3 separate regions of the Homo sapiens genome follow, and regions 1 and 3 are each linked to region 2. Evidence: fine-mapped expression QTL. A gene starts in region 2. Each other region holds a variant in brackets. All regions are shown on one strand. Distances are from middle to middle.

What was found.
Region 1: its variant is fine-mapped to the expression of PRSS23 in prefrontal cortex (CommonMind, PIP 0.95).
Region 3: its variant is fine-mapped to the expression of PRSS23 in visceral fat (GTEx, PIP above 0.99).

The regions. Positions count from the first base shown.
Region 1 is chr11:87,421,400-87,432,167 of GRCh38, forward strand. The region is part of intron 2 of LOC107984361 (a long non-coding RNA gene); the gene reads left to right. Among named protein-coding and RNA genes, the nearest start is that of LINC02711, 290 kb to the right of the region's middle. The variant T/TACAC (reference allele first, on the strand shown) is at 5,021.
Region 2 is chr11:86,796,537-86,806,845 of GRCh38, forward strand. PRSS23 (serine protease 23) reads left to right here and starts at 4,006. Exons shown (of 2, transcript NM_007173.6): 1 at 4,006-4,115.
Region 3 is chr11:86,577,938-86,588,705 of GRCh38, forward strand. The region is part of intron 2 of ME3 (malic enzyme 3); the gene reads right to left. Among named protein-coding and RNA genes, the nearest start is that of ME3, 89 kb to the right of the region's middle. The variant C/T (reference allele first, on the strand shown) is at 5,125.

The sequences.
Region 1 (10,768 bases), 630 kb after region 2:
ATCGTATTGAGTCTTGGGGAAAGGGTCCAGGAAGAAAGATGCTAACTAGATCCAAGTGCCAAGAATCCAAGAGAGCTTTGAGTCACTGCTTACTCTGATGGAGAATCTAAAGAGGGATGTTTAAGGTAGAACAGTGACACCTAGTGGTGGAAGAATGACCTGCTAGATCCTTTCCCATCAAGCTCCCCATCCTGCTTCTCTGTCCTCCTGTTCCCTTGGCAGGTTGGGACCTTGGTGATACCAGTGGGTGCCTAGAGAAAGAAGTGTGCTGTCTCAGGCTCCTACAGGACGCCGTGGTTTGCTGGTCTCCAGGGTGGATGGATGAGTAGATGGTTTGACCATGAAAACACAAACATTGTGCCTGTGACTAATGACACTATATTGTATATTTAAAATTTTGTTAAAATGATAGATCTCATATTAAATGTTTTTCTACAACACACACACACCAAAACACAAAGCCAGCCAATCACATAAAAAAACTCAACAAACCCAGTCTGATTCTGTTACAGGGCCAGACTAGATGATTGTAGAGGTCCCCTGGTCAACTCTTTTCGAGCCTAGAGAGGGAAAAGGACCAGTCCAAAGACACATAACAAACTAGTTACAGAGCCAGGGCCAGAAGCCAGGTTTCCTGCTGCTCAGAAAAGAGCCCTCTCTATCAGCCTTCCTCTGCTGACTTTGACAAGGTGGAATTATGCCACAGTGAATAGAAAGGTACTGAGAGAGGAGCAAATCAAGGGGAGGGGAAGCTTGAGGATGTAAGCAAGGGGAGTCACATGCTGTCTACCTGGAGAATGGAAGTAGGGGCAGGATGGAGCCCCCTGGAGAAGTCTCTCCACCTCTTCATGCCAACCTGGCACCTGCGTCCTCCTCCCTGAGCACTCAGGGCCAAGCGTAATTGTTGGTTTCCCTGCTTGAAGGACTGATCTGATGATTCACGCTACTGATGTGTTGCAAATGATTCTCAGTAAGGGCAATGATGGAAAGCCTGGGATATATTAGAATCATCTGAGGGGCTCAGGAGACTGTCCCATTCTCTGCTGCCAAGATTGCCACAAGGGAAGGAAATGGGCCTTGTGTAACCCAGAGGAGCCTGGGTGAGGTGCTGGAGGCATTCACCATGGGGCTCTGGCTAGGAGAGCCTGTTTTCTGTCATGTTATGCTGCCCAGTGGAGTTTTCCCAGCAGAGCTGTCTCCAGTGGCCTCCTGGCTGCCTGGCATGGAGATCCAGTCTCTCTTGGAAAGTCTGGACAACTCTCCCCTCTAACTCCAGCTTTCCATGTATATTTTTCCTCTCAGCCTTGGTGCTTTGTCTGCCTGACTTTTCAATTGACTTTCCCCTGAGTCACAAATTCCCCAGCTCCTCCTTCCCCGCAGGCTATCCCAGGTTCCACCATAGCTGGGAAAGGCAGGAAGCAGCTATCTCTCCCTTGGAGCAAAATTTGTCAAACACAGAATGGAAACAGAGCTTGCTATCAACGTGCTGAAAATGCTTGTTGCTGGATACAAAATGTGATATCAAGATACTCCAGAGATACGCCCTTGCTGTTTCTCTAGAGTCCTTCTCTTCAGGTGATATTTGGTTATTTATTTTAGCAGTTAAAAAATTCTTAACTTTATTTAGTGATTTTAACATGTCTCTGAAAACATAGGTATTTCAGGGACAAATGAAGCCATGTGGAAAATGACTAAATGCAAAATGACTTGTTAGTCATTGTAATTAGCAAACAGATCTATTTTTGGCTAATTTATATAGCATTAATTACAAATACTTAGGGGATGTTTACTGGGTCTTGTGGGCTTTGCAGGCCTTGGATTGTGCTAAGCACTTCATGTGCATTTTATGGTTTAATCCCTCACAACAACACTCCAAGGGAGATAATTTTATTATCTCAATTTGCAGTTGTAAAAACAAGCTTAGTGACTTGCCCAGAATCACATAGCCGGCTGTCAGGTCCTTGATGGCAGGGACCTTGCCTTATCTCCTGATGTCCTCCATTTGCCTGCCACAGGATCCTAGAAATAATAGGGCCAAAGAGATGCTGGTGAATGATGTTGGTGAAGATGATGATAACAAATGATGACTTCCGACTAAGATGCAAGGTTTCTCCTACTCCACCATTTACTTCCTTACTCTGTTCCCAGACGTACTCTGTTCCCAGACGTAATCGGGACAAAGATACTCCCATTACAGACTGTGGAAAACATCTCACCTTCCCTCCAAGCTTGGGAATGGTGAGAATGCCTTGATTCTATTGTTGCTTCTGTTTTTCATCTGTAAAATGGGGACAAAAGTATGACTTTAGGGTAAATGAGACATAAACGTACATCATAGACGTAAAAACACTTTTTAAGTTGTTAATCATTAAACAAGAGAGATGTTACTTTGATGAATAGTCTGCTATTCAATATTAATAATAATGTACACACCAAGCTGAAAGGTGGGCTACCTTCTCCTTACTCCGTACGTAAAGCAAAATTGTGATCTCATCTTCCATGCTTGCATCTTGGTATTTCGAAGGTGGAAAGAGACAACGGGAGCTACTCATTCCTCCTCTTAGGAAGGAGGGCCTGACTTTCAAGTCTATTTTCTTGCTGTAGATGGAAAAAAAAACCTGATTTTGAATGCCAGAGCTGAATACTGTAATTTTAGTATTGCACTAACCCCAATCACCCATCACCCCACAGATAGATGCCTTGGGTTGAAGACTCTTTCATTATACATTAAACTGGTGTTAATTCAAATTTAGTGCTTGGCTGGGGGCCTGTCCACAAACTTTTTGTTACTAGCCTATAAAAAGATACATTTAGCAATTAATGGTAAACATTTAGAAATATTTCACAGCAACTTTACAGAGTTATTTTTATATCTGTTGAATTGAAGAAAAAATAGTGGCTTGCATTTTGTTTGTCCTTTTAATATTTAACAATACATTTTTATTGCCTTTTCCAAAAGTATAAGTCTGTGGTCGATTGAAATTTTTTTAAAAATGTTATTCCCTACTGGTAGTTTGAGAAGTACTGCTTTATACCTGAAAAGGAGGGAGTAGATGATTTTTAGCCTTTTATGCTAAGGATCCTTTCTAGCTCTATGAAAATGTGTTTGCCTCCCTCTCAGGGACCACACCATGTGGTATGATGAAGGACCTGACTATGACCAGCCACAGAAGGGCTCATACACCCTTCCTCCAGGGAATTAGGTGAGGACTCACTTTCTGTTGGTAAGCTCAAGAGAGCCACCGAAGTGATTATTTTCCCAACAACATCAGAATTTGCTCTTTGGCGACTCCTGCCTCTCACTGGATACAGAAGTAACTGGCAACATTTTAAATATGTGGCTCACCAAGCACATCTTTACCATAAAATGAGAAAACGGGCTCAGAGGGATGAAGTAACTTGTCCTAGGCACATAGCTAGTAGAGCTTAGAATCCAGATTTAAACCCAGGTCTGTTTTCTCCAAGAGCTCATGATCCTGCCAGTTTATCACAGTTTGTTTGGAAGGTTGAGACACACAGTCTCTGCAAAAACTGTTGAGGAGTCTGGAGAAGGGGTAAAGAGAAAGTCAGTCGGGCATACTCAGGAGGTGGAGAAGTGTGGAGAAACTGACAGAGCGGGACAGAAGTGTCAGGCATTGCTATGGGTTAGAATGAGCCCCCCACCCCAATTCATATGTTGAAGCCCTAACCTTCAGTACCTCAGAATGTGAGCTTAAGGGAGATAGGGTCTTTTCATAGGTAATCACATTAAAATGAGATCATTAGAATGGGCCCTAATCCAATATGATGGCATCCTTCTAGAAAGGGGAAAATTTGGACCAGACATATATAGAGGGAAGATCATGTGATGAGACATAGGGAGAAGGTGACCATTTACAGCCAAGGAGAGAGGCCTTAACAGATCCTTCCCTCAGAACCCTCAGAAGGAACCAAGCCTGCTGGTGCCTTGATTTGGACTTGATTTGGACTGGATTTAATGATTTGGACATCGTTAAAGATTCCAGAGATGGCTGGTTTCCGCCAGTGGGAGGGAGAGGACCTCATGCCGGCTCCATCACTGATAGTGTCTTATGCTGTTAACATGTATTTACCAGCCTGTCAGGGCAGAGGGAATGAGGATGTTCTCTGCAAGCCTGTCAACTTTCTCATCCAGTTCCACTCTCACTGTCCTGACTCCTCATGAATTTCTGGCCATGAGTCATTCTTTCAGGACTGAACTCTACAGCCCTGTTACAGAGAGATTTTCACCAGATCCAACTCTACTAGCCTTAAATGTATAGTAAGCATTGCATTGGATGGTGCACATGTTTGAAATAAGTAGCCCAGGCCCTCATTTGCTTCCTTCGGGGGCAGGCAGACGTTCTACGTCTACCACCTCAGAATTCCTCTGAGTTCTGTTGAAAAGACAGACTACTGAGAATGAGCAGGCCACCTGAGAAGGGAGCCATCTGTGTTCTATGGAGGAACAGGGCTCTTCTGGCCATGGGGAGGCCATGGGAATAGGAAGCCAAGGAAGATTCAAATGCTCTGCTTCACAAAGGAATATTTTCATAAATGCCACAGTCACTCTTGTGGGAGGGTCCCTCTGACTATATGGAGAGGCTCTCCGAGCCTTTTCTGGAGGCTTCTTGAGTACTTCCTTACTCACCTTTTGAAACAACCAATTTGCACTTTGGGGGCAGAAGGATTTCTTTGGAGGAATATTTCACATTTTTTTGCAGTGATGGAAGTGGGCATTGTCAGATGGTCTGCAAAGATGGTGAAGGTTGGTTGCCACTATTTTGTCTATGAATGGTTGTCTCATGGGTCATTGTTAAGGATTGTTGTTTCTGTGGGCTGGCTGCATTACAATCACCCAGCAGTTTAAACAGTAAACATTCCTGGGTTCCTGCTCCCTGAGATCCTTATTCAGGAGTTTAGGCACATATCTAGGAATTTGTATGTTAAAAATATCTCTGATGATTGTAATGTGCAGATAGATTTGGGAACATCAGTTCCCCATTTCTACATTGCTATTATG[T/TACAC]ACACACACACACACACACACACACACACACCCCTTTAACAAATATTCATTGGGAACTTTCCCTGTTCTAGAAAGTGAGCAGAGACCTAGGCATATAGGGACCAAAGGCACAATTTTTGTCCTCAGATAGTCAGTCTAGTGGGAAAGACAGGCTGGGATCAGATGTTGACCATACAGCATCATAAATGTTTGAGTAGAGTTAGGCCTAGGATGTCTAAGAACATTGAATCTGCTTTTGGGGGTGCATGTGGGAACGGAATTATGGCATTTGTTTTCAACTGGGGGTGATTTTGCCCTGCGGAGGTATTTGGTAAAGTCTGGAGACATTTTTGGTTGTTAAAAGTTGGGAAGGGTGCTTCTAGAATCTAGTGGGTAGAGGCCAGTGAGGGATGCTGCCAAATATCCTATATGCACAGAAAAGCACCCCACAACAAAGAATTATCTGGCCCCAAATGTCAATAGTGATGAGACTGAGAAGCCTGGGGATAGGAAAGTCTTCCTAGGGGTTGAAACTGACCAGACACACAAAATGGAGAGTTGGTAATGGGAAGCTTACTCTAATGCAGAGAAAACAGCAGAGACCTTGAGCAGGCACACCTTGGGAGCTGTGTGATGATATGCAAGTTGGCACAGGTGGTGAGGGAAGAGGCCAGAGAGGTTGAAGGGGACTTGGGTTCCCTGCATTAGAGAGTGGATTTCTTCCTTAAGGCTAGAGGAAGCCACTGAAGCCGAAGCAGTCAACTGCAAAAGTAAACTTGCATTTTAGAAATATTACTCTGATATAAGGTTGAGGGATTGAGGGATGCCTGAGATGGAAGGGCTGGGCTGGGGGCACTCGGGTTTCTCAACAAAGAGATAAAGACAAACTTTTTAAGAAATATATATATATATATTTTTATTATACTTTAAGTTCTAGGGTACGTGTGCACAACGTGCAGGTTAGTTACATATGTATACATGTGCCATGTTGGTGTGCTGCACCCATTAACTCGTCATTTACATTAGGTGTATCTCCTAATGCTATCTCTCCCCCCTCCCCCCACTGCACGACAGGCCCCAGTGTGTGATGTTCCCCTTCCTGTGTCCAAGTGTTCTCATTGTTCAATTCCCACCTATGAATGAGAACATGCGGTGTTTGGTTTTTTGTCTTTGTGATAGTTGGCTGAGAGTGATGGTTTCCAGCTTCATCCATGTCCCTACAAAGGACATGAACTCATCATTTTTTATGGCTGCATAGTATTCCATGGTGTATGTGTGCCACATTTTCTTAATCCAGTCTATCATTGATGGACATGTGGGTTGGTTCCAAGTCTTTGCTATTGTGAATAGTGCTGCAATAAACATACGTGTTCATGTGAAGAGAAACCTTTTCAAACCCAGATTGAGTCTAAGAGCCAAGGAAATGTGCCAGATAGGAAAGTTGCAGAAGATGGAGGGGGCTGTAGGAAACCCAGAGAGGTTAAGTGACTTGTGTAAGGATGGGTAGTAATTTTTGGCAGACCTGGAAATTTTGGCAGATGATCTTAAAGATAAACATATACTGTAACAATTGCTTTATATTATGGGGCTGCAGAAACAACTGCTGACATTCCCAAACCTTACCTGTAGTTGAGTTTCCTTGCTGATAGTAAGGATTGGGCTGTTATCATTCCAGGTATTAGTGTTATTTTATTGCCCAAAATAGTTCTATAAATGTGGTATTATCTTCAACATTCATAAATTTGAAAACTGAGATGCAATGAGGTTAATCTCATAGATAATGTCAGTTAGCTATTGCCGCATGAGACAATACCCACTCCCTAAATCAGTGACTTGGTACTGCTCATGAGTTTATTGGTAGCTGAATGGCTTTCTGATCTCTGCTGGGATGTCTCACAAGGCTGGAGACTTGGCAGAGGTAGTGCAGCTCTGTCTACATGGTCTTTTCAGGCTGACTTAAACATGTTCTCACAGCAATGTCAGAGAAGCAATGGAAGAAGCAGAAACATGAATACTTTTTCAAGTCTCTGCTTCAAGCTTGCTACTGCCCGATTAGTCAATGCAAATCACATTGCTGAGGCCAGAGTCAGAGTGGGAGGGGACTAAGGGTTATAGGGGAAAAGGCACAGATATAGGAGGCTATTAATAAGGGCCACTAAGTCACTCTTCTCTTCAGCAAATAGTGGCAGAGCCAGAATTTGAGCTGGATTCTTCAGATTCCAAAGTATATAATTTCTCTACCAGACTCTCCTGCTTTGATAATAAGAATGTAATAAAAAACAATATACATTAGTTCATTAGTTAGGATTTTGCATCAATAAAGACACTTTCATATGTACCTTTTTTTTTTTTTTTTTTTTTTTGAGACAGACTCTCACTCTGTTTCTCAGGCAGGAATGCAGTGGTGCCATCTTGGCTCACTGAAACTTCTGCCTCCCAGCTTCAAACAATTCTCGTGCTTCAGCCTCCTGGATAGCTGGGATTACAGATGCATGCCACCACACCCGGCTAATTGTTGTATTTTTAGTAGAGATGGGGTTTTGCCATGTTGACCAGGCTGGTCTTGAACTCCTGGCTTCAAGTGATCCACTGGCTTTGGCCTCTCAAAGTGCTGAGATTACAGGTGTGAGCCACTGCGACAAACCCATATATATTATCTTAACCAAGGCTGAGACAACCCTGTGATACTGGCAGAACTGACATCTTTGTTTAAAGAAAAAAAGCAAAAGCAATTAAATATTCAGATTCATAAACAGCTAATTTCCTTAGTAAGCAAAGAGTGCTTAGGCACAAATAAGAAAAAGATAATAGTATAGTGGGCAAAGGCCACAAACAGGTAATCAATTAAAAGAGAAATGTAAATGGACAAACATGAGAAAACACGTAATGTCCTTCCAAATAAAAGAAATGCAAAATGTAAAAATGAGATATCATTCTATCCTACTGGATTGATGAAGACTTTTAGGTTTCATGATACCCAGTGTTACTTAGGGACGGGAGTATGGGCCAGAAATAGGAAGCCTTCTATGCTGATGGTGGGAGAATGAATTGGTGTGATATATTTGGAGGGTAATTTTGGCAATAGTGATAAAAATATGCATATGAAATTTGACTTAACTATTTTTATTTTTAGGAATTTACCCTAAAGATAGACCTAAAAAGGTCTGCAAAGATATCCACAGGGATATTCATTGCAGGCTTCTTTGTGATAGCCAAAGAATGGAAACCCTCTAAGCCAATTCAGAGAATGGGTTATATAGATTTTCTTTTAACTTTGTCCAAACTAGGTGTCAAGGAGAATGAAATAGATCTTTATGTCCTGACATGGAAGGATCTCTAAGACATATTGTGAGAGAGAGGGAAAAAATGGCATGTCTGTGAACAAGATTTACAATTTTTCATTTGTTTAAAATAGAGATATTATATACATGCTTGTGTCAACATAGAAAATGTCTCAAAGGACATCTATGAAGCAGTTAATAGTAGCTAATTCTGAGGAATAATCAGAAGGGTGGAGGAAGAAAAGGACAACTCTATGTTTAACTTCATTCTCTTCCTCACTATCTGAATTCTTTCCCCATGAAAATGTACTACTTTTATCTAAGAGAACAGAATAGAACAGAGCAGAAAACAGATTGAAAAGAGGTTATTGTATTTGAGTATCATTTTTTGCTGGCATAGCTTGCTTTTATAGTTGGTCAATTTGCTCAATTAGAAATCTTTTTTTATGGTCCTCGTCTCCACCTATTAAGAAGGCTTTATTCTTGCTCAGTGTTAACGCTTAAGAATGCCTAGGAATTGTTTCCAAGGAAACCCATCTATAGCCAGATGTTAATGGTATAAGCTCCTATGGCTACAGATAGGGTCTTGTTTCTTAGCAACTCACTCAAATCTTCTCATTTTAATTAAAATCATACATTTCCTTAAAATGGAAAAAATTCTTTTCCTATTCGTAGCAAGGATATGGAAGGTGATTTATCCTTGTTCATGAAATTTGCCTCTGAAAAAAGGCTTTCGTGAATGTGAAGTGAAATCTAAAAACATCTCCTTACCTAAGGGTGCCCTCTTTGTCAAGTGCATAAATCAGTTACTACTTTCTCTTTTTAAATAAAAATACATTTATTTATTTTTAGAGACAGAGTCTCATTATGTTGTCCAGGCTGAACACAAACTCCTGGGCTTCAAGTGATCCTTCCGCGACAACCTTCTGAGTAGCTGAGGTTACAGTTACCCACCCCCACGCTTGGCTCTCTATCACTGCTTTCTACTCAACTTCAACCACCCCAATCTGGGTCTCTGCCTTTGACATCCTCAGGTATAGTGTGTGACAGTTGAACACCATTTCCTCATCTAGCTAGCCCTTAGGTTTCTTATCAAGACTGACTTACGTAGGCACAGCAGATTCATAATGCCAGTACCACCTTTCTGGTGACCTGCACTTAAGGCAGACAGTACTGGCCTCTTTCCCACCAAGTATTCACAGGGCTGCATGGTCCTGTTCATTGCCCTGCTTTGGGCAGCCACGGTGCTGTGCTGGAGCTGCCCCGTGGGAGAAGCCTGTCATCCTGCCCTGGGTGAAAAGAAGTGAAAACATATACATCATGATAAGCATAACAAGTTAAACAATTGCCAACATTGTGTATTTCCTGAAATGATCCACTGAGAAGGACAGACATCATTTCTCTGGTATTCGTGAAAAAAAGAAAGTATGTTCTAAATACAATAATGAGGAAACCTCAGGCAAACATGAACAGTCTACAAAATAACTTTAAAGTGGTCAAGGCCATGCATGACAGTAAACACTGAAGAACTGAGCATAGAGATTGATGAAAATACCATATCATATCTCTACAACTTTTCTTTCTTCATGGAAATATTCCTGGATGGCAACATTTTTGTTATCAGTTATTGGAGCCCTCCACACATTTGTTTCTTGGATTCTTGAGATTGTGAGATATGGACCTTGGGGATGCTGGGGATAGAGACCTGGGGACAGGACTGTCACCCTAAGAAAGGCCTGTGTGGGACACCTTGGGATCTCTGGACAGACAGAGGGTCCTGTTAGGACTTTGTCACTGTGGCAGAGGGAGCCAGGAGCCCTTCCATTGGATAGAAAGGTAGGCTGTGACTCAACCTCACCCACTGAGTCCTAAGTGCCAGTTTCCCTGGGTGACTTGAGCCAGTTGCTGCCAAGTCATGCAGCTAGTGTTCCCTGGGTGCCTTTCAAGTGGCAGCTGCTGTCCTAAGTGCTGGGGCTGCAGCTGTGAGCAGGACTAACAGTACCGTTCTTGGAAACTTCAAATCTAATGGCGAGGTCAGCATGCAGACAAAATGTAGAAAATTAGGGAGGTTCAGGCACTATGGGCATGCACACCAGGAGATTCCATCCTAATTTGGTGGGAGTCAAGGAAGGCATTCTGAAGGAAGTGGCAATGTCTACACTGAGATGTAAAGGTCGGATAAGGGTTCACCAAGTAATAGGAAGGAGGAGCTTCCTTGTCTGCAAAACAACAGGTTCGAGTGACAATGATCAAGCTCCCTTAGCTCTCAGTCTTTGTTGTGTGTTATACCACTCAATTCCGGGACACAAGGTGAGCAGACGGACTAGTGACAAAGACTCTGTCTTTGACCAAACTCTAGCCAGGCTCCTTTGAGCTCTCTTCTCCACTAGGCCTCAACCTTGTTCTATACAGACTTGAACAAACACTAACATCATTACTAACAGCTCAAAGTGCCTGCCGAAGAAAACTTAAGGCTGCCAAAAAAAAT
Region 2 (10,309 bases):
AGGCTGAGGCAGGAGAATGGCGTGAACCCGGGAGGCGGAGCTTGCAGTGAGCCGAGATCGCGCCACTGCACTCCAGCCTGGGCGACAGAGCGAGACTCCGTCTCAAAAAAAAAAAAAAAAAAAAAAAGATTACACATAATAAAATATACTCCACAGTACCTGGCATATAGTATGCATTCACTAAGCATAGATACAATTTAGTCCTAGTTCTGCTCCCTTAATTTATGCATTGATTTTCTCATCTATACAGTGGATATTTTTCTTCTTGTCTGTGTTACAAAGTAGTTTTGTGAACACAGTGAGGTAATGTCCAGATTTTTATGCTTTGAGCTTCAGCTCAAATTCTACCTCAAAGCTTTCAGCACCTGCCAGAGTGGGAATTAATGATTCCCTCTTCCATGTTCTCTAGCTCATGTCTGTATCCTGATCCAGCTGATATCTTGCTTTCTCCTATATTTGATTTTGTTTATGTCCATTGCATACATTCCTCGAGCTGAGGGGTATTTGCTTTCTCTCCCTGACAGCCCAAATAACCTTACACAGAGTGGATGATCAGAAAATGTGTGGGCTTTGCCCTGAATGCATTTTGAACAACTCCATTGCTACGCATATAAAAAGTATTCGGGAATTACAATTATAGAGTTGAACTGAGTTCTTAAGAAGCAGTGAGGATTTCGGTTTTGGTTCCCCCGACCCCCTCCCCACTGGGGAGGGAAATGGGACGAGTACAAAAAGAAAAGCAAACCTCTAATCTTAGCATGAAGACATCTGCTGTTTACATTGGTCATTTGTCTCAGAGGTCAAAATACAGTTCTATCATCGTCCTTATGGCAATCGTGATGACAACCTAACAGCCAGGAAGTAGCCTCTCATTTTACTCTTGGTAGCTCTGAGGAACAACAAAAGCTTGTGGTGCATGTTCAAACCCTGAGCCCCCGTGGGACATCTGTAGTTAAAGAGTCCTTCCTATTAGCTCTTTGGATAGTGGGCGGTAGTCCCTGAGACCAGATGAAGGACTGTTGTGCTCTTGGGCCCTTCTGTGCCTCAGTTTTTCTCTCTGAGTGATGGGAATAATCATCTTGTTCTCCATGACTCTAACTTGAAACATTGCAACTACTAGGAAAAAAATGAGCAATGAATGTCAAAGCTGACTGAGGTGGTACTGGAGGACTACACTCCGAAGCAGAGCCAAGTGTGATAAATATAACAATACCTAATATTTATTAAGGGCTTGTTCCATGTAAGAAACTCTCCTAAGCACACTATGTATATTCATTCAATTCTTAAAAGAACTCTATGAGAAAGTCCTGGTTTTACAGAGGAGGAAACTGAGGTACAGAAAAGTTAAGTGAAAAGCCACACAACTAGTAAGCGTCAGACCTTGGATTGGTACCCCATAGTCAGATGCCACAGGCCACTCTTAATTATGTTGCTGTATGGTCCTCCTATATGCATCTCTTTAATTTTGTGCCTAGCGCAATGTTTTCCATGTAATATGTGCTCAATATATATTTGTTGGATTGAAGTGACTCTAATACAACTTGAGCATGGTTGATAAATCTCTCCCTTCTTCCCTTCCTTCCAGCTGCACCTCCAGTTCCTCTATTAAGATACTTACCTTTTAATGGTGTTTCTTCAATTGGGAGCTACAGACACTTAGAGATCCTCAATTTAATCTTTAAAATTTTTATAATAAAAGATAAACACATTCTGGATCATTGGGATGACCATCTCATGCCAAGTACTGCCTCTTGATTGCAGCACCTGTGTGTACTAGTCTTTGGCAGCAAGAGTTACCACTTCACTTGCTATGCTAATAAGAGAGAAACAGCACAAATACCTAAATAATGTATTAGAGTCAAGAGAAACCCATTGCAATGACATATGGTGTGGGCAAAGGAGATATGGTAGATGGAACGAAGGAAAGAGGTGAGAGAATTGAGTCTGCATTGGGCACCTCACACATCATGAGAGTGGCAGAGCCACAGGGAAGTCAAAGGTACTGACGCCTCAGCTGTCAGTACCATGCAATGCTGATAGTAGTCCAGGAAACGTTACTAATTTCAATTTTATTATTCTGGAAGAAAATTTTTATAAATCTGTTTTGGTTTTATTTGCGAGTTGTTCAAAAGCTGTAACATAAGTTTATATCTGGTTTTGTGTCTGTGTGTGTTTTGAGACAGGGTCTTGGTCTGTCACCCAGGTTGGAGTGCAGTGGTGATCATAGCTCATTGCAACCTCCACCTCCTGGGCTCAAGCCATCCTCCCACCTCAGCCTCCCAAATAGCTGAGACCACAGGCGTGTGCCACCACAACTGGCTAGGTTTTTTGTATTTTTTATAGAGATGGGGTTTTGCCATGTTGCCCAGGCTGGTCTCAAACTCCTAAGTTCAAGCAATCTGCCCACTTTGGTCTTCCAAAGTGCTACGATTACAGGCGTGAGCCACTGAGCCTGGCCTATGTCTCTATATATTAATGTGACATTTTAAAAGAAAACAATTGAAGCTAAGCTAAGAAAAATTTGCCCTTAAAATGGTGGAAAATATCAGTTTCCTTTCTATTTAAGAAATACCAGGCCGGGAGCAGTGACTCACGCGTGTAATACTTGCTGAGAAGGGAGGATACTTGAGCCCAGGAGGTCTACGCTGCAGTGAGCTATGATCCTGCTACTGCACTCCAGAATGAGCTACAGAGGGAGTACTTGTCTTGAAAATAAAATAAAAGAAAAGACCACACAATAATGTGTTCAGGGCTTTCTCATGTAAAAGTAATTGCAAACACCAACGTATTAGGCATATCAGTAACACCTTGGTGTGAAATAGCACTTTAGACCTTCCCTTTCTGAGAGTAGACTTTGATAGGAGAAAGGAAAGCTAAGTAGCTTGATAGAAAGCATGGCTCAGTGCAAAATCTTGTCCTACCATTCAGTAGCTGTGTGATTTTGGGCAAGTCATAAAACCTCTCCAAACCTCCTGTTCCTTATAAAAATTAGTGTAATCTCTGCACCTTCTTCACCACAATGGCCTATATGTAAAGCTCTTGACCGAAAACGCTCAATACACAGTAATCTATACTAAATAGGAAGGCTCTAACACTAGGACCTTAAATGGCAAGGTCTCCAGCCTGGTTAGGAGAGGACTCCCCGCACACCCCCCTACCCTGGCCCCCAACCACCACCACCAAGATAACGACCGCTTGGAGTGATTCAGGGAAGTAGGCCCACTGGACAAGGAGGTGGCTCCACCAGCTGGTGCCCCGATGAAGAACTGAGGCCAGTGGGCTCCCCAGCCACCGCCGCTCAGAAGCTGCCAAGCACCCCCGGTGCTTTGGGCCCCACGCACAGCACTGAGTGCTGTAAGGAAATGCAAAGCATTGGTGGCCCTGCCATGGGAATACAGGTTTCTGTTCTTTGGAGGCACCGGAGAAACTAGGAGTTCGGTCAGCACCTTAAGGCGCTAAAAGTGTACGTGGGGGTGGGGCGCACACAGGTTCTGAACCAATTCTTCAAATTTGCCCAGGGCTCCCCATACACCAGGTGTGGCCCGCGTCCCTAGTTCTAGGCTGTTGGGGGAGGGGTCGCCTTTTGTAGGGGACCTGGTCTTTTTGCGAGCTGGCAGCGTGCTCCCAGCAGCGAAGGCCGTAGTCTCGCTCAGGAGGCCGCGCGCCAGACCCGGGGATGCGCGGTGTTCAAAGGGTGACGGCGCGCGGGTCCCGGGCAGGAGAGCCCGCCAGAGCCGGTGCTGCCTGGCGCCGAGAGGCCCGGACTGGCGACTGCTGCCGCGCCACCGGGGCCCACCTGCGCAGGGACGCTCGGCCTCAGGCCCTCTGGGCTGCTCCACCCTGCTCCGGCCGCAGGCGAGCGGCGAGGGGAGGGGGGCACGGTTTATGTGCAGTGGGGCGGGCGGCGTCCGCGCGGCTTCCCCGAGGCCGGAGGCGGGGCGGGCGGGCCTCGGGTGGCGCGGGGGGCGGACCCGCCAGCTGCCTGCGCTGCTCGCCAGCTTGCTCGCACTCGGCTGTGCGGCGGGGCAGGCATGGGAGCCGCGCGCTCTCTCCCGGCGCCCACACCTGTCTGAGCGGCGCAGCGAGCCGCGGCCCGGGCGGGCTGCTCGGCGCGGGTGAGTGCGGGCACCGACTGGGGCATCCGCCCGGGCGCGGGAGAGGCGAGGCGCCGGGAGGAGCGGGACAAAGGGCCGGGTATGCGCGGGGTAGGGTAACTGCGGGCTGCCGGAGGCACCGCAGGACTTCGCCAGGGCAGTCCTCGGGGTTCCAGGACACGGGCTGGGGGCCTGAAGGAGCTCTGGGGAGACGGCGGGGGCTGCAGGTCATTTGGATTCATGCAGTGTCACCCATGAAACGGATGGGGAAAGAAGATCCTGCTGTCTTGGGTGCAGGATGTTGGTTGGGAAGCAGAGAGAGCCGGCTCTCGGCAAGCTGTCCTTCGGCGGGGGCGATGGCTACACCCCCATGCACCCCCCCAACACACCACCACCACTACTTCTTTTCCTTGAGTTTTGCATATACCGGATTCCATCAAGTTCTGAATATTAAGTTTTAACCCTGGGCATGTGATTGTGAACACACCTAAGCAAGCAAGAGAAGTGCAAAAGTGCAGCAAATACAGGCTGGGAAATAGAATCTTTTCTCCGGAGTGGTTGTCCGTGTGCGTTCCGGGGGTGCTAACCCTAGACACTACAGTCTGAACTAACAACAGTTGTTGTAAGCAAATAGTTCTTCTGCCTGTAGGCATTCATCACGAGTTAACTTTTAAATAAAAGTTTTAAAGTTTTAAAAGGAGCGGGAGAAGACTTGTTCAGATGAAGGAACACCACCACTCCTCTCCAGAATACAAATTAGGTTTGCTTTCCAGCACCTCAGGAGAAAGCAGCTGATAAAAATCCTGTTTGTTTTACTGCCCACTGGGTGACACCAGTAAGAATTAAGCAGCTCAGTGTAGGTATTGGAATAGGGCTTGCTTCTCTCAGCTCCTGAAACTAAATTTGAGGGCTCCCTGTGCACTCCTTAGGAACAGGTAGGCCAGTGCCAGAATCCTCATCACATGGTCATGTGAGAAAGAATTGAATTTATAGATGAGGTCAGCTGTGGTCAAAAGCCCTATGTCAAAGTAGTATCAGGATATTTATTGCATGTTGTTTCAAGATCCTACTTGTGCATGCGAGTATTTGTGACAGGTTTATAACCGTGCCTACCATGAAGTCTGTCAGGAGTGGATTGGAGGTGAAGTGGGGAGAAGGAACTTAGAAAATGCCCCCAGAAGCCACTATGTTTATTTGTGAAAGTGTTTGCACCCCATCTGCGTACGAAAAGGTTGTTTCACTTGCAGTTTTCCTAGTTAAATAAAGTCAAGCGGTAACTTGTCCTTTCCTGTGCCTGAACTGGGAAGGAAGCCTTTTTCCAAGGTGCCTAATATGGATCTCATTTTTGTAACACTGACGACTTATTCAGCTGGATGGTTAACATGGATGCATTTTCTGGTTGTAGCATAAGTGTCCATTAATGCATCTGAGAACATTTTTGTCCCCAGTCTGCAATGGTTAATAGTCTCAGGTTCTCCCAGTAACTCTTCTCATAGATCCCTTAGGATTTCATCCACCAGGCATTATTCATGCCTAACTCCCACAGACTCCAGGGAATTTGTTTCTCATGTTCTCAATATTAGCAGGTTTTTTTGCACTCTGTTCTTGTTCTGCCAGGTTTGTCCCAGGCTCAATTTAGTTTACCTGAAATCCGATAGAGAAGAGGCTAAACTTCATTTGACCACAAGATTGTGTTTAGGGTTGCTTGGACTTGTAAGTGCCTTGTAGTTTCCTGTACAAGACTGTAATTCTTAAACGATTATGTGATTAGGTCTGTTTTGCCTTAATAGGGTCTGTGATTCAGGAAAACGAGAACAAGCCCGACTGCAGAGTATTCACAGAGCTTGGTTCATTCTTAAGCATTTGCTTTAGGATTTAGCATGATTTCACCGTTCCATATCACTGACCACTGATTCCATGGAAGACCCTTTGTCATCTCTCCAAATGGTGTCCAAAACCTGTATCTTTGCAAACTTTCCTGCCGTTTCTTTCTGTCATTACTGTTTATAGCGGCTGCAGGAATTCACAATTTGTACAATAGAGAATACATGACCTAAGGATTAGGTTTTCCCTCCCAGCACTTGTTTGCTATAGGAGTTAAATCATTCTCTCAAACAGTGGCCCTCTTGAGGAGACCTGTGTTGTTGCAGTTTTCAAGACTAAGGTGCCGTGCAGGAGACAGTAGTCACTGCATCCAGTCTCCAAAGAGATTGTTGTTTGCATATCTGTTAATTATGCAAAGTCCCACCACCAAGGGCCTATGAAGTGGCAGCATCCTCAAAAAGTATAAATATTTTCAGACAGTGGCTCATATTGAGTGATGGAGGGTGGACTGTGTAACCTATTTATGAATCAGATACCCAAAGCTGGAAAAGGAATAGTTTCTGTATTACTAAGCATGGTGAAAAAATATTTTCTTACCTTCATTTTCCATTCTTCCCTGCCAGTTAGGTGAAATGATGCACGGAAACACTTGGTTGGAAACCTTAAAAGATAATTTATGTATACCAGGAATCTTTATTCAGCAAAAGTTTATTCCTAGAAATGAAACGTTATAGACCTAAATTTTCTTCATCCAGACTTAGGTAAAAGGGTGAGATTTGAAAATCTTCATTCCATTTTTAAGGTGTGAGTCTTCCAGGCAGCTCTGCAAGGATAAGGTGATTCATTTATAAGGGTGAGAGAGAATTTAAAATCATGTAACTCATTAGTTACCTTTCCAGGTGTGGGATTATGAATGTTTTCATTACATCTGTTTATACCTTAGATGAGTGTTTATGTTTAAGTAAACTTAAACAGGTATAGCACAGGCTTACCCAGGGTTTATACAGATGGTAACAATAATTATTTGTCTTCTAAGGAATTACTCCATTATCATGTGAGTTGAGAAATGAATGTAAATCCACCAACCTAATTTTAAAGCATCACAGTTTTGCATCATTTGTTGTTTTATTAATGCGGATGAGTCAGGGCAGGCTGCGAATGCCTCAGGAAAGACCCTTAATGGACAGGAGGGTTGTTTCCCCCTCAGGCTTTTCTTTGGGGCCTGTCTTAAGAGCATACACACACAGCCATCCCTCCACTCAGTTCTTGAAAGCTGCCTTCTGCTGGAGTCACAATTTGTACAATAGAGAATATATGACCTAAGGATTAGGTTTTCCCTCCCAGCACTTGTTTGCTATAGGAGTTAAATCATTCTCTCAAACAGTGGTCCTGTTGCAGACTGATCAGGGAAATCTTGTCTGCCAGATAGATGAGAAATTAGCATGATTCATTTTCCTTTTCCTTTTCCTTTCCCCCTCCTTTGCCTCCACCCTCCATAATTCCATGAATCAATGGTCCTGAGAAGTAAATGATAGTACAGACACTATAGTCAGCATCGTCCCTGACCTGGACTTACGTGATTCTGGAAAATTATAATATTAGGGAATCCTGGACCTAAAGACCAGAGCTAAAAAGACCAGCTAAAGCAATCATCTGGTTGAGGATGCTATTCAGAAGAATTTCTAAAGCACCCTAAATAAACATTTGGTAAAGGACTAAGCAACTTAAGAAGCTTGTAGCTTTAATACAGACATCAGTTTAAACCCATTTAAGGGCTTGAGAACCCACAGCTGTATCTTCTAATTTCTGATTAGATATTTTAAAAATATCTAAGCCTAATCAGTTTGAAGTAATTTGATGGGCATTAGTTTCTAAAAGTCTGCATTCATTTCTAAATCTGAATTAAACTTTTTTAAATGCAATTTTATAACTTTTAGCGTTACATGGAAGCTTTAAGCAAGATATATAATGCTGTCAGAACAAAGTCTTATCACACAAGTTAGTAAATAGGGTTTAGTAATGTGGAGAACTTGGAAGCAGAGTTGCAAACTAATAGAAATTAGGACTTATTAAGTCTCTGAAAAATTTATTCTTCAAAGTTAAAGCTTCACACTGTCCTGTTGGGTTAGCAGTTTGTTTTTTTCTTATAGATGGCTGGCTTCTCCTTCACTCCTGGCTAAATGAACAGAATTCAAGTTGTAAGAACTCTGAATTAGTAATATTCTATCATGCAGTAGACTCTTTAGCATTCTCTAACAGGATTCTGTGATTCATAACTGATCCCAAAGTTTCTTGAGACATAATCATTCATCATTTTGCCAAAGAATACATTTGATCCTCTATATTGAGAGGTTGGAGTAAGGCTGTGGCTCATGAAAGAGGATATTGTAACTGCCATGTTCTTCATGCACATTGAAAATATTATCTGTAGCTGATGATAATACATACTATAATACTACCTCATCTCCTACTCTTTCTCCCCCAAGAATCGTATTTTAAAAACAAGAACGCTTGGCAGGTTGGACCTCCGCATTCTGTGTTTTCTTTCTTAAGATAAGCTGAAGTAAAACTTGGCTTACCATGTGCTCAATGTAAGTCACATTAACATTCCCCACATTACTCAAAGGGAGGAGAGAATGGTGCGTTGAAGCCCAAGATACAGCCATGTGGGAGATATATGACTCCTCCTAGTCCCTGTCACATTTGGCAGGGATTCTGGTGTGAGTGGGGCATTTAGTCACCTAGACAGCAACTTATATAGAGAAAAGGCTGCTCAAGTCCTCGATAAGCCCAAGGGATGACTCCTTAGCCAGTAGGTGGGAATAATCAGAACCATGCCCCACAGATCTCCTAAAGGGTTGTCATCACCACACCCATTTCACTGCCAAGTTCTCCATTGGAGAGGAGGACTCAGCTAGCATTGGCATCCCCTTCCTAGTCCACTTAAAACCTTTAGTCTTGGCAATATTCCCAACAAGCACATACAAACACGTGTGTGCACATATGCGGGCACCCCATGTTTTCAAGGATTTAAAGAAATAATTAAATGTATTTCCTTCCTACAAAAGGGCTCAGGGACCCTTCCTATTTGGAAAGATGGAGACAAGTAGAATTTCAAGGAATTAGGGAGTCCCAAGGAACTGGCTTTTCCAGGACCTTATTTCTTTCTTTTCCTATCCCTATTCTCCCTGACTGAAGTGGAAGCCAAGAGAAAAAGTCAAGCAAAAAGGTCCCAGAGGTGGGTGGGGCACACACATATGTTAGAAACACAGTGTGGATATTGGGAATGAGAATGGGCATGCTCAGCTATACTACATCAGATCATTGGGATTTTCTACTTTTATATAAAAGGGAGCAAAAGGCACCCAAAGTTGCCAGTAGATCTGTACTTTCAAACAGGAAGAGAATGAGAATAACAAAACAGTTTCTTCCTAACTTCTGCTGTGTTCCCAGAGCCTCTTGAGACCCACCCCTTCCGGGTCCTTGTTTTTGGATGCTTGGTTGTGAATGAGTTACCCTACCTGCTGAGTCAGCTTCTATTGAACCAGAAGAGTCAGAGCCACTGAGAGCCAACTGATGCTTAAACATTTATGAAAGCACTTTCAGTATTCCTCGTTGTTGTTTTTCTTGTGGGATGATTGATCTGGGCATTTAAACATACCTTGCAGTATAAAATCCAAACTTCTTTGTTTAGTACACATAGCACTTCACAATCTAGCTCTTGCCTGCTGCCTCCACCACTTCCTCTACTCCACCCTTGCTGAGCTAAGTGTGATTCCCCAAATTACTCACATGGTTGCATGTTGCTGTGCCCTTGCACAGACTCTTGTTTCCCTTCCCTAAGTATCCCCTTCTCTCTGTCTTATGTTATCAGACTTCTTTTCTACTTCAGCACCCATCTGAAACATCAGGTGATGCCTGGAAAATTTCTAGGCAATTTGTTCATTTAGAGGGTAAATTTAAATTACATAGCTTACTGAATGACCGAAGCATCAAGGAGGGACAGCTCCACGGTGTCACCTTTACTAGGACTCCTATTGCTTCTAAATGGTGGGTACATTTGAAAAGAACGGGTGCATTTGCCAAATAATACATTTGGTCCTCTATATTGAGAGGTTGGAGCGAGGCTGTGGCATACTATTTCTCAAGCATCACTTCTCCTAGAAGGCCTCTCTTGTTCTTACTCCCACAATTGGCCTCAAGCTGTTTCTCTGAGCTACCGCATCATCCATGTACATCATTGTCATTAGCGTCAGCATGCAACATTCATTCACTTTTCCATTAATACAAGCATCCATTTAACAAATCTTTGTCGAGTGCTAGCACAGGCCCAAATTTAAGAGATTTAGTTGGTAATACAGATATAAACAACTGAAAAAGTAACCAATGGT
Region 3 (10,768 bases), 220 kb before region 2:
ATAATGGCTATTTCAATTGTTTTGCTATTGAAAGATTAGTTTTTGCGAAGTTGTTGGATAAGAACCAGCGTGGAAGAGATTCCATTTCTTTTCAAGAGAAATTTCATATCTGCTCCTGAAATACTTGGTGACTTTAGGATTTTGTCCATCCCGACCGAACAAGGGAACAGAGGTGGATAGTTGGAAAGATTATGAATCACTCTCTTGGCAAAATTCCCTGTGTTATTCTGAATGTTTCATGACCCTCTCTTCCCAAGAGACTATTATTTAAAATTTAAATAATACTGTTCTTGGCACCCTAATGGCCCTCTGAGTCAGCTGGACTGCAACAAAGTAATAGCAGAGGAAGGTTACAGGCAGGGGAGCAGCAGAGAACAAGGGAAGTAGCCTCTTTCCTCCAGCAACACAACAGCACTTTGATGGACTCAGCTTGGGAGGACTGGGTCAAAAGATGAACTGTGACCAGAAGGAAGAAAACAAACAGACACACTTTGGGAGGGTCTCAGAATAGGCACTGTACATGCATTCCTGGTGCGTGCGAATAAGTGGGCGGGGTGCCAGAACTGGACACGAGACAACCAAGGACAAGCTCATCTGACAGGGCAAGTGTCCAACAGATGGCTGTTAACCTGTTCCAGCCCTAATATGAACCAAATCCTCATTCTCCTGGGCTTCAGTCTCAACTCTGCCACCTTATCAGGTGAACCAGGAAGGAAGTCATTTTGTCCTGAAGAAAGTGGACCATTGTGGTGCACAGGAGATCACAGCGATCAGTCACCCTCTCTGTCTTGACACCAAGAAGCAGGAGTTCCAAAATCCAGAGGCCATTTTGGACTGAATTTGTAACAACTGTTTACACTTCACTGCTTTGTTAGGGTCTACAAAGCAGTTTTATTTGCTATGATAGTAGTTCTGAAACTTTGCTACTCATTAGAACCACTGCCCTATGTGGTAGGCTGTCAAAGTGTCATTCCCATTTTGCAGATAGGAAAGTTGAGGCTGAGAGAGTTCAATGATTTGCCTAAAATCATGGCTCTAGCAAGTTCTAGAAATGAGACTTGAATTTTGAGTTCTATTTCACCTTGTTGGCTCATTAATTCATTCATATTAAATGAATTATTCATTTAACAAGTATGTTTTGAGTACCAGCTCTGTACTAGGCATTAGATATACATTAAGAGACTAAATATATATAGCCCCTGCCTTCACTGAGTTTCAGTCTAATGATCTTTTCATTTGAACCGGTATTCTTTATACCCTTTCATATTTCAGAATTAATTTCAAATTATGTAGGCTGGTTTCGTGCCCAGCAGACTCAATGCTCAGCAGAATAGCACAAGTGGTACATTTACTAGAGCTCAGGTGTGCAGGTCCAAACTTGCCCATGAGAGGCAGTGGGCCACAGAGAAGGGAGATCAGGCCTTGGAGTTGGTGTTCCTGGCTTCAAATAATGTCTCTGCTCCAACTGGCCATGTGATCACAGGGAACTTTCTAAAGTTCTCTCTCTGTTCTCAGTGTCCTCAGTGGGGGACTGAAGATCATAATAGCCAAGCTCCCTGAGTGTCATGTGTCTAGCTACTGGCTGGAACATCTGAGGCTCTCACTAAACACAGCTGTGACCAGGCCATTACCAGATGCTGAGTACTGTGGAGAACAACCGATTCATGAACCTGGTGTTTCTGAGAGGCACAGCAGCCTAGGAATGTCCTTAGAATTTCCTGCCCTGTTTATTCCTCCTCCTTTAATCTCTATCCTCAATCCATTCTATTCATTTTCCTTAATAATTACAGTTTGGGTACCACTTATTTGGAATTTAAGGATAGGTGGTTGATAAATTTTAACTGGTGATAGTGACCTAATGCAGATCTAAAATTAATAGAGAAACTCAAAGGTCAATGGATTCCAAGTTAGAAGTTCAGCTATTGGGAATGCTGTTTGAATGGCATTCCCATTTTTTATTAGACTTATATTAAAAGAAAGTGAAAAGAAAATATGGAACCTTGGAACTTCAAACCTTTTGAGTTTTCCTTCTTTCCAGTGCTTAGCTGATACAATCAACATTGAGTTGTTTTCTTTGTCCCTTTCTGAGATAGAATCTAATTCTTGCACTTATGAATTTGAGAATCTTTAAAAATATTTTCTCATTTCATAAACATGATTAGCTCGAGAATCTATATGTTTAGGGGCTACATGCACCTTGTCAAATTGTTCCTTTCCATTCTTGATTTCCGGAAAGGTCACTGGAATTCCTGCAAGTGTGGCTCTGCTGTTCTAGATTGACATTGTCGACCCTGAAGGAAGCGATGTTGATGTTCACAGAGACCTGCAGAGTGACCTCTCCTCCAAATGCCTCAAAATAAATGATGGCATGCCTGAGACTACATTTAGTGCCATTTGGCTACCAGGCTTTTCTAAAACCTGTATCTTCTGGTAAGTAAAGTTAATATTTAAAGTCTCTTTTTAATTACCAGTAGGTAATAGCTTGTTCTAAATTAATGCTGATTGACTAAATACATGACTGAATGATTGATTGGGTCATCATTGAATAGTATGGAAATTTTAATTTGCTTTTATAGATGAATGCTCAGTTTGTGGGTCTGTATTTTATAACTTAAATTAATAAAGATATTAACACTACTTCAGTCTTAATATCAAATACTCTTGTGGTAGGTATAGAATGAACTAAGGCACTATTTCAGTTTTGTCCTTCTGCCACATCCCTACGAAATAGAAAACCTACCCAAGATTATACAGTTAATAAGTAGCAGAGCTGGAATGTAAACACAGGTCTGTGTGCTGCTGGCCACTGCCATCCATACTGGCCACTGCAGTCCATTTGTGCAAAATAATCATTTTTTTGCACAAATTTTAAGCATTGCATTCTTTGTTGTGATTTTGGACATTTTGCAATCACCTTTGTCAGCCACATTAGAGACAAGGTTTGATCAGTCTACCAAAGTAGGTGTTTCCTGGTCGGCCTTATCCCACAATATCCCAGCTTTTAACCTTGGATACCTTCTCTAGAGGAAAAGGGGGAAGCATACAACAACATTTAAGTGTTCTCTTCCAAAAGGCAGGAATGACAAAGTCTGGGAATTGAAGTGAAATATTCTCCCCAGGGGAATAAAATACAGCAGGGTTTGTCAAATTCAATCCAACTCTGGCCGTGAAATAGTAAGGAGAAACCAACATCTAAAAAAATATATAGATTTCAGTAGAAAATAGCAGGTTGCCTCACATTTAATAAAAGTACTGTTTTGCTAAACTTTTGCTTGTGTGTGTATGTGTGTGTATACACATGCATCCATGTGTAATTGGTATGTATGTGTACTAGCTTGTGGTATAAAGTGTACTTTTAACGATAGGTTGTGATTTAAACATTTTGAGGAATACTGTAGCATAGGATAATGATTATGAGTGATGGATCAGACTGCCAAAGTTTGAATGTCAACTCTGACCCTTACTAGCTGCATGGCCTAGGTATATTTTAACCTTTCAAGTTTCAGTTTTCTCCCCTAGGAAAAAAATAACTCATAATGTGTGTAAAGTGTGCAACAGAGTGCCTGATGCTTAGAAAGGACTCACTAAATTAATGTCAACTATTGCATTTTAAGTGAAGCAGTTTGGGTAAAAAGTTGATGGCAAGCAAGAGCAATGCTTTGCATTATGTCCCCAGAATCATTTTAATTCCAGATGCATACATTCATCTGCTTGCTGGCTATCCCCACATACATGTCTCAGAGGCATGTCAAACACCACATGCCCCAAACCAAGCTCATCTTCCTGCATTCCCTACTCAGCAATGGTACCACCAGCTACCCAGTAACCCAGTAAAAACTGGAGAGTCACCCTGGATTCCTCACCACTCAACCTATATATGCAGTCAAGTCATTAATAAGTTCAGTGATTTTCTATCTCCTGAATAGTTCTAATTTCCTCCTCTGTTATCCATCCTCCTTATAATCCCTGTTCTTTCCAATATTGAAATCACACCTTGTCTGCTATTAAACTAAAATCCTGCAACTCCTGAATTCTAGTCTTCACTCCTACTGTTCTGCCCCTGGAATACACCTTTTAGAACTTCTGCCAGACTGTCATTTTCCAAAAACCAAATCTGATAATTTTCTTGCTAACTTAAAACATCTTTAGCAAAGCCTGCAAGGCTCTTCATAAGCTGTGCATCATTTTTGGCTTTGCCACCAGCCACTCTTCCATGGGTGGCCTTTAATAGAGCAAACTATACCATTCCCAGAAGAAGCAGGCATTTTCATACCTCTTTGTGTGCATGTGGTAGTTCCTCTGTTGGGAATGACCTTCTGTGCCCATCTACTAATCAGTATAGTGGATTAGAGGATGAAGAAGACATTGATTGAAACTTACATTTAAAATTAAAAATTCAGTGTGCATCAGAAGCACCTTAGCTGGTGGGTTAAAATTCAAGTCCTTGGCCCCTACCTGTAAATGTTGATTCCAGGGCTTTTTACCTGCACCCCTGGTGATTATGAGAAACTGCACCAGAAGAAAGATAAAAGTCCTGTACAAATGCTAATCCTTAACACACATTCAGAAGTAGAGGTGACAACCTTGTCCTTGGGAAATATCTCAATAGAAATTCAATTTGGAGCATTTCCTAAGGAGAGTGGATAAGTGCTGACTTATTAGTAAAGATAGGACTTTTTAAATGAGCAGCAATGACAAGAAGGAAAAATACTGCTACTTAATGTAATTATCTATTAATGTTAGTGCCTTAAAATATAAAAACTGCATACTGCTAAAGCACAATGATAGCACTGGTCCGACACTGTTGTAGTGAGATCTCTTTCCCCCTAGAAGAAAACCCCACGGGAGTCCTGCTACTGGGTAAGTTTATAACTAGAGAAAATCAGTTGCCTCACCTGCACACAACACAGAGGCCCAGTTGTTTCCACCGAGTCTGAAACAAAAGGCTTTCTCTGTATTATCCATGGTAAGGAAAAAAAAAAAAAGAAGACAGAACAGAAGCTTCAAGTTAAGTATCTGGGCGTTAGTGGCAGTTAAAACTTGGTGAGAAACCAAGATCAGAGGCTGGCTTTTTATAGGGAACAAATTTCCGAAGCATTTTTATGGCTGAAAGTTTATGCAAAC[C/T]AGATAACCCAAGGCTTACAGATAAGGATCTTAGAAAGGGTTATGCTGTCTCTTTTGAGCTGTCCACCACCAGACCCACCCTGTTTACTCAGCCTAATCATTCATTCATTCATTCATTCCCTCTTTCATTTAATGAGCACAGACTGTGTGATATACATAGTGCTAGGTATACGTGGAAAGAAAGATGATGAAGCCTAAATCTCACATTCCACTGGGGGAGTTGACACAGCAGATATTAGGTTGATGCAAAAGTAATTGTGGGTTTTGCCATTAAAAGCAAAAACTGCAATTACTTTTGCACCAACCGAATACAAGATGTAGTGATTTGTCATTCAAACGAAAATGGTTATCAAATAAAGTGATGCTATTCATTCCTCAAAAATTTGTAGGGCATCTACTTTGTATAATGAAGTATGTCTGGCAGTGGTTGTTAGCTGGGAAAAACAAAGGTTCATTTTCTAATAGTAAAGACAGCTATTAAATAAATAATCACCCAATTAATTAATTCATTCGAAGAAATACTACAAAGCAGGTGCAGTGGATGCTGTTAAAGGACATAAGGAACCCCAGGAGTCCTGATGTCATTTTCTTTGTGTTGGGAATGGTATGTGATTAGAAGAGACTTCCCTGAGGAAGCAATATCCAAAATGAGATATGACAGATAAATAAAGAGTTAATTGTCTTCAACAATGGTATTGAGAAAACTGTATATCCACATGTAAAATAATGAAATTAACCCTTATCTTATATTGAAAAATGGATTACAGATGTAAAATGTAAGACCTGAAACTATAAAACTCCTAGAAGAAAACATAGGGGAAAAACTTTATGACATTGGACTTGGCAATGATTTTATAGATACAATATCAAAAGCACAGGCAAAAACAGTAAAAATAAACAAGTGGGACTGTATCAAACTAAAATGCCTCTGCACAGCAAAGAAAACAATCCACAGAGTGAAAAGGCAACCTACAGAATGGGAAAAAGTATTTGGAAATCATATATTTGATAAGGAGTTAATTTCCAAAATATATAAGGAACTCTTACAACTCAATGGCAACCCCCTCCAATAACCTGATTGTAAAATGGGCTAAGGACCTGAATAGACATGTTCCCAGAAAAGACACAAATATCCAACAGGTATATGAAAAGATGCTCAACATCACTAATCATTAGGGAAATGCAAATTAAAACCACAATGTGTTATTACCTCACCTCTGTTAGAGTGGATATTATCAAAAAAACAAAAGGTAACAAGTATTGGTGAGGCTATGGAAAAAATGGAACCCTTGTACACTGCTGATGGGAGTGTAAAATGGTGTAACCACCATGGAAAACAGTATGGAGGTTCCTTGAAAATTTAAAAATGGAACTACCATATGATCCAGCAATGCCACTTCTGAGTATTTACCCAGAATAATTAAAATCAAAATCTCAAAGAGGTATTAGCACTATTCACAATAGCCAAGATGTAGAAAGGATCTAAATGTCCCTTGACAGATAAATGGAGGATAAAAGGGCATATACATAAAATGGAATATTATTCAGCCTTAAAAATATGGAATGCCTGCAATATACAACAATATGGATGAATCTTGAGGACATTATGCTAAACACAATGAGCCAGTCACAGAAGGACAAATACTGCCTGATTCCACTTACATGAGGTATCTAAAATAATCCTACTCATAGAAGCAAATAATAAAATGGTGGTTTCCAGGGATTAGAGGTAGGAGGAAATGGGAAGTTTCTAATCAATGGGTATACGATTTCAGTTATGAAAAATGAAGTTCTAGAGATCTGCTATATAACATTGTGTCTGCAGATAACAATACCATATTATACACTTAAAAATGTGTTAAGAGGGTAGAGCTCATGGCAAATGTTCTCACCACAGTGAAAAAAACTGTGATAAAGACTAATAATACATCTTCAAACATAACAACAAAAAAGAGTTAATTAGGCCAAGTGGTGGTGCTCGGGGTAGGGGTGGTGTTGAGCAGCTTTCTAGGCAAAGAAACACCACGTTCAAGGCTTGGAAAAGGGAAGGTGCACAGACAGGACCAAGACTGTGCAGTGTGTAGGTGACTTTGCTGAGGACTTAGGTTTTCAGCTTCAGGGCAATGAGAAACTACTGAAAGTTTTAAACAGAAGAGGCATAATTAAATCTGTGTTCTTTAGAAAAGATCATTTTGGCTGCAGTGAGGAGAATTTTTGGAAGGGTCCAAGAATGTGCTGATAAATTAGAAGTTTCCTGCAATGGTCCAGTTAAGAGGCAATGGTAGCTTGTGCTAGGATGGTGGAATGCAGCTGGAGAGAAGCAGGAGGATAAGAGATACATGGGGGAGAAAAAATGCACAGGATCTGGTGATAGATGAGATTTGGGGGTTGAGTGAGAGAGAGGGGTCAAGGATCACTGCCATCACAACTGGATGAATGGTTGTGGTGTTCACTGAAATGGGACACTAATGATGAAGACCAGGACTGGTTTTGGGTGGGAGTGGAAGGAGAGGAGCTCATCTCAAGTTTTACTTTATATACATTGAGTTTTCCTTTGAGACATTTATCTGGAGGTGTTAGTGGACAGTTCCATATCTATAAGTCTGGGTCTTAGAGGGTAAAGAATTAAGTTGAAAATGATGAGCAAAAAGATGGCAATTGAAACGATAATGGGGTTGTATGTATTACTCTATGGAGAGAGCTTAGAGCAAAAACAGAGCCTGGCTTGAGCTTTGAGAAGCTCCAGCTTTTTAAGGCTGGATAAAGGAGGAGACTGAGATGGGACAGCGGAAAGAAAGAAGGAGAACCACAAGATGGGTTGTCACCAGGTGACAAAGGAGGATGTGTTTCAGGAAGGAAGGCGTGACCAACACTGCTGAGTTTCTCTGAAAGGTCAAATCATTAGGATGACTGAAAACGATCTACTGGATTTGGAAAAGTGGAGGTTCTTCGTAACCCAGTGAAGAGTTGATGGAGTTATACTGGAGTGGTTTGAGGAAAGTTGTGACAAAATGGAAACAGCAAATGCACAAAACTTTTTCAAAAAGCTTGGCTACTAAAGGGGGTGGTTTAAGGTGGAGATATTTGAGCATGTTTAAATGCTGATGGGATGGAATCCTCACTTCCAGGTATAGGGGCAAACAGTTTATGGTGTTGTCAGGAAAAGTGGGAATGATTGCCTGTGGAACCCAAGCTGGGTTGGATTAGGTTAGTGGGTAGGAGCAATGGCTGGAAAAAGTGAATGGAAAAATGTGAAGTGGAGAACTGAGTAGGATTGGAGACTGTGGTGGGGTCCGAGGGGACAGCTGACCCGGCAGCATCTCTGGTTGACAGTGTGTTGTTAGAATCACTGATTTCTGACATGGTGGAATTTCACAAGATGCCGAGGTCCAGGGTGTGACTCTGGGAGAAGCTGAGGACAGGTATTCCAGTTAGCCAAGACTAGGGTGTTGGAGAAGCCAACATATTGATGCTGAAGTCACCCAGGGTTATGGCAAGACTGGGTGGAGAAGGTCTATAAGCTGGTGCCAAAGTCCTCAATAATTGAAAGGTGGTAAATGACAGTGATGAAAAGGACAAAAGTTCAATATCTCTAAATGGCCCAACTCTTCAAATAGGAGCAGAGAAACAGATTTTGTTGTGGTGGTAGCTGTTTTTTTAAATAAAAGGATGGGGGAAAACAGCTCTGAAAATGGTTTTAGGGAAAGAAAGGATACCTAGCTGTGTCCTGACTTGGGAGCCGAAGAGTGAAATAATAAGCAACCTCCATATGAGAGGGGTTTGGATGAAGCAGTCACTCAGGGTAAGGGTAGGTTTTAGTTGATAGACAGAGTTGGATAGAACTTGTGAAAAGAACTGAAGATATAAGGGAAACGTGTTCCTGAAAGCCAAGTAAAATGGGGTGGAGAATGGAAGTGGCAAGGATGTGCAGATCTGAAAGTCTGTCAGAGAAATAGATGAAAATAAAGAATGAGTCAGGAGTGTGAAGAATGGGACTAATGCTTAGGGTTACAAAGGAGGTAGATGGTAAGGTTTTGTAAAGGAGGTCTTAGTTGAGCTGAGATCAAGTAGAAGTTCTGCTGATGGGCAGAGGAGGAGAAAAGCATCCAGGTAGAAGAATCAGCAGGCACAAAGATGCGGAGGCCCAGGAGGCATTTGGCTTGAGGCCAGTGCAGTTTGCTTCAGCATGGCTGCTCTGCAGAATCCCAGAGGACCAGTGGTAAAGGAGGAGGTCTTTCCCTGAGACCATTTTCATCAGGCCTGGGCAGGCATGATGCAGGCAGGCCCAGGTCAAGGAGAGCTTTGGTTTCCAGCTGGGGAGCCTTGTGGCTTAGGGATGGGCTTTTAAGCAGTGGCAAGATGTGATTGTCACTGTTCCAGATGGGTGGGTCTCTTCGCTTTCCTCATGCCCCACCGTGCTGTGCTCACATGGTTGCTGTGATGTCCAACCCTCTGGGTAAATTTTACTCATCCCTGAGGCCTAACTCGAGTCTTGCCCCTGGAGTAAAGCCCTTCATGACTACTGTAGCCCACACCTTCCTCCTTTCCTCCAAATGTTTTTATTTTTCCAGTCAGAATCACACTTCAAAAGAAAGACAGTAGAAAAAGCCGTCATTCACGGTTTGTGTGAGCAAGCATCCTCCCCACCTAGCTAGAGAGAAAACTGGTAGGACATAAAATTACTGTAACTAAGGGAGAATAACCGGTCTCTCTCATTTAAAAAGATAACAGAACAAATTGAGTTACTTTTAGAACAATGGAAAATAAAGGATTTCCTTCTTTTTTCTGTTCCACTGCCAAAAATGAGTGCCTTCTGGCTCAAATATAAATAAGAGTTCTGTTTGAAAGTCCTGGATTAATACTGTCTCAGTTAATGTCTGGATGTATGGCCTTAAGCAAGTTACTCAACTTCTTAGAACCTCAATTTTCTCATCTGTAAAATGGGCTAATAATACTAATTCCACAAGGTCACCAGAAGATCATACAAAGTCCTTTGTGTATTTATGCATCATATTAATTGTATGCCTTACTATGTGCCAGGCATTGTACTAGGAGCTAAGCTGTGGCATGAACAAGATAGGCACAGTCTTGCCCTCCTGGAGCTTACAGACCAGAGGGAGAGAGAGACAAATAGTTTCACAATTAATTGGCAGTATCATAGTGTAGAAAGCCTGGCAACAATGTCTGGTTCAGAATACACCTCTAATACCCATTAGTCCCCTTCTGTTCTTAAGTTCTCTCAGTCAAAGTAATACAACAAGTAATAACAATAATATAACAAGTAATATAACAAGCTGTTTGCTAACACACATTAATTACTTAACTAATTTTCTGGGGCTCTCACACTGTAAGTGGGGACTATCTCAGGCTCACACAAATATAGATGATGCACTGGGGAAACTATGGCAAGGTGACTAAATTCATGTCCTACCAAGGCTCCTAAGTCAAAGGAGACCCCATAGAAAACGCCATATTTCAACCCCAATACGTTTGGCTTACTAGAGCAGAAAGGGCAACACAGCAAGCTGGAGGATGAGCCATTGTTTCAGGACTTAGGCTGTGAAGGAAAAACAGCAGCCTCAAGTGGAGCCTTGGAATGTGGCTACTGAATGGAGAGGCCTAACCCACTCCATAACCTGTCCAT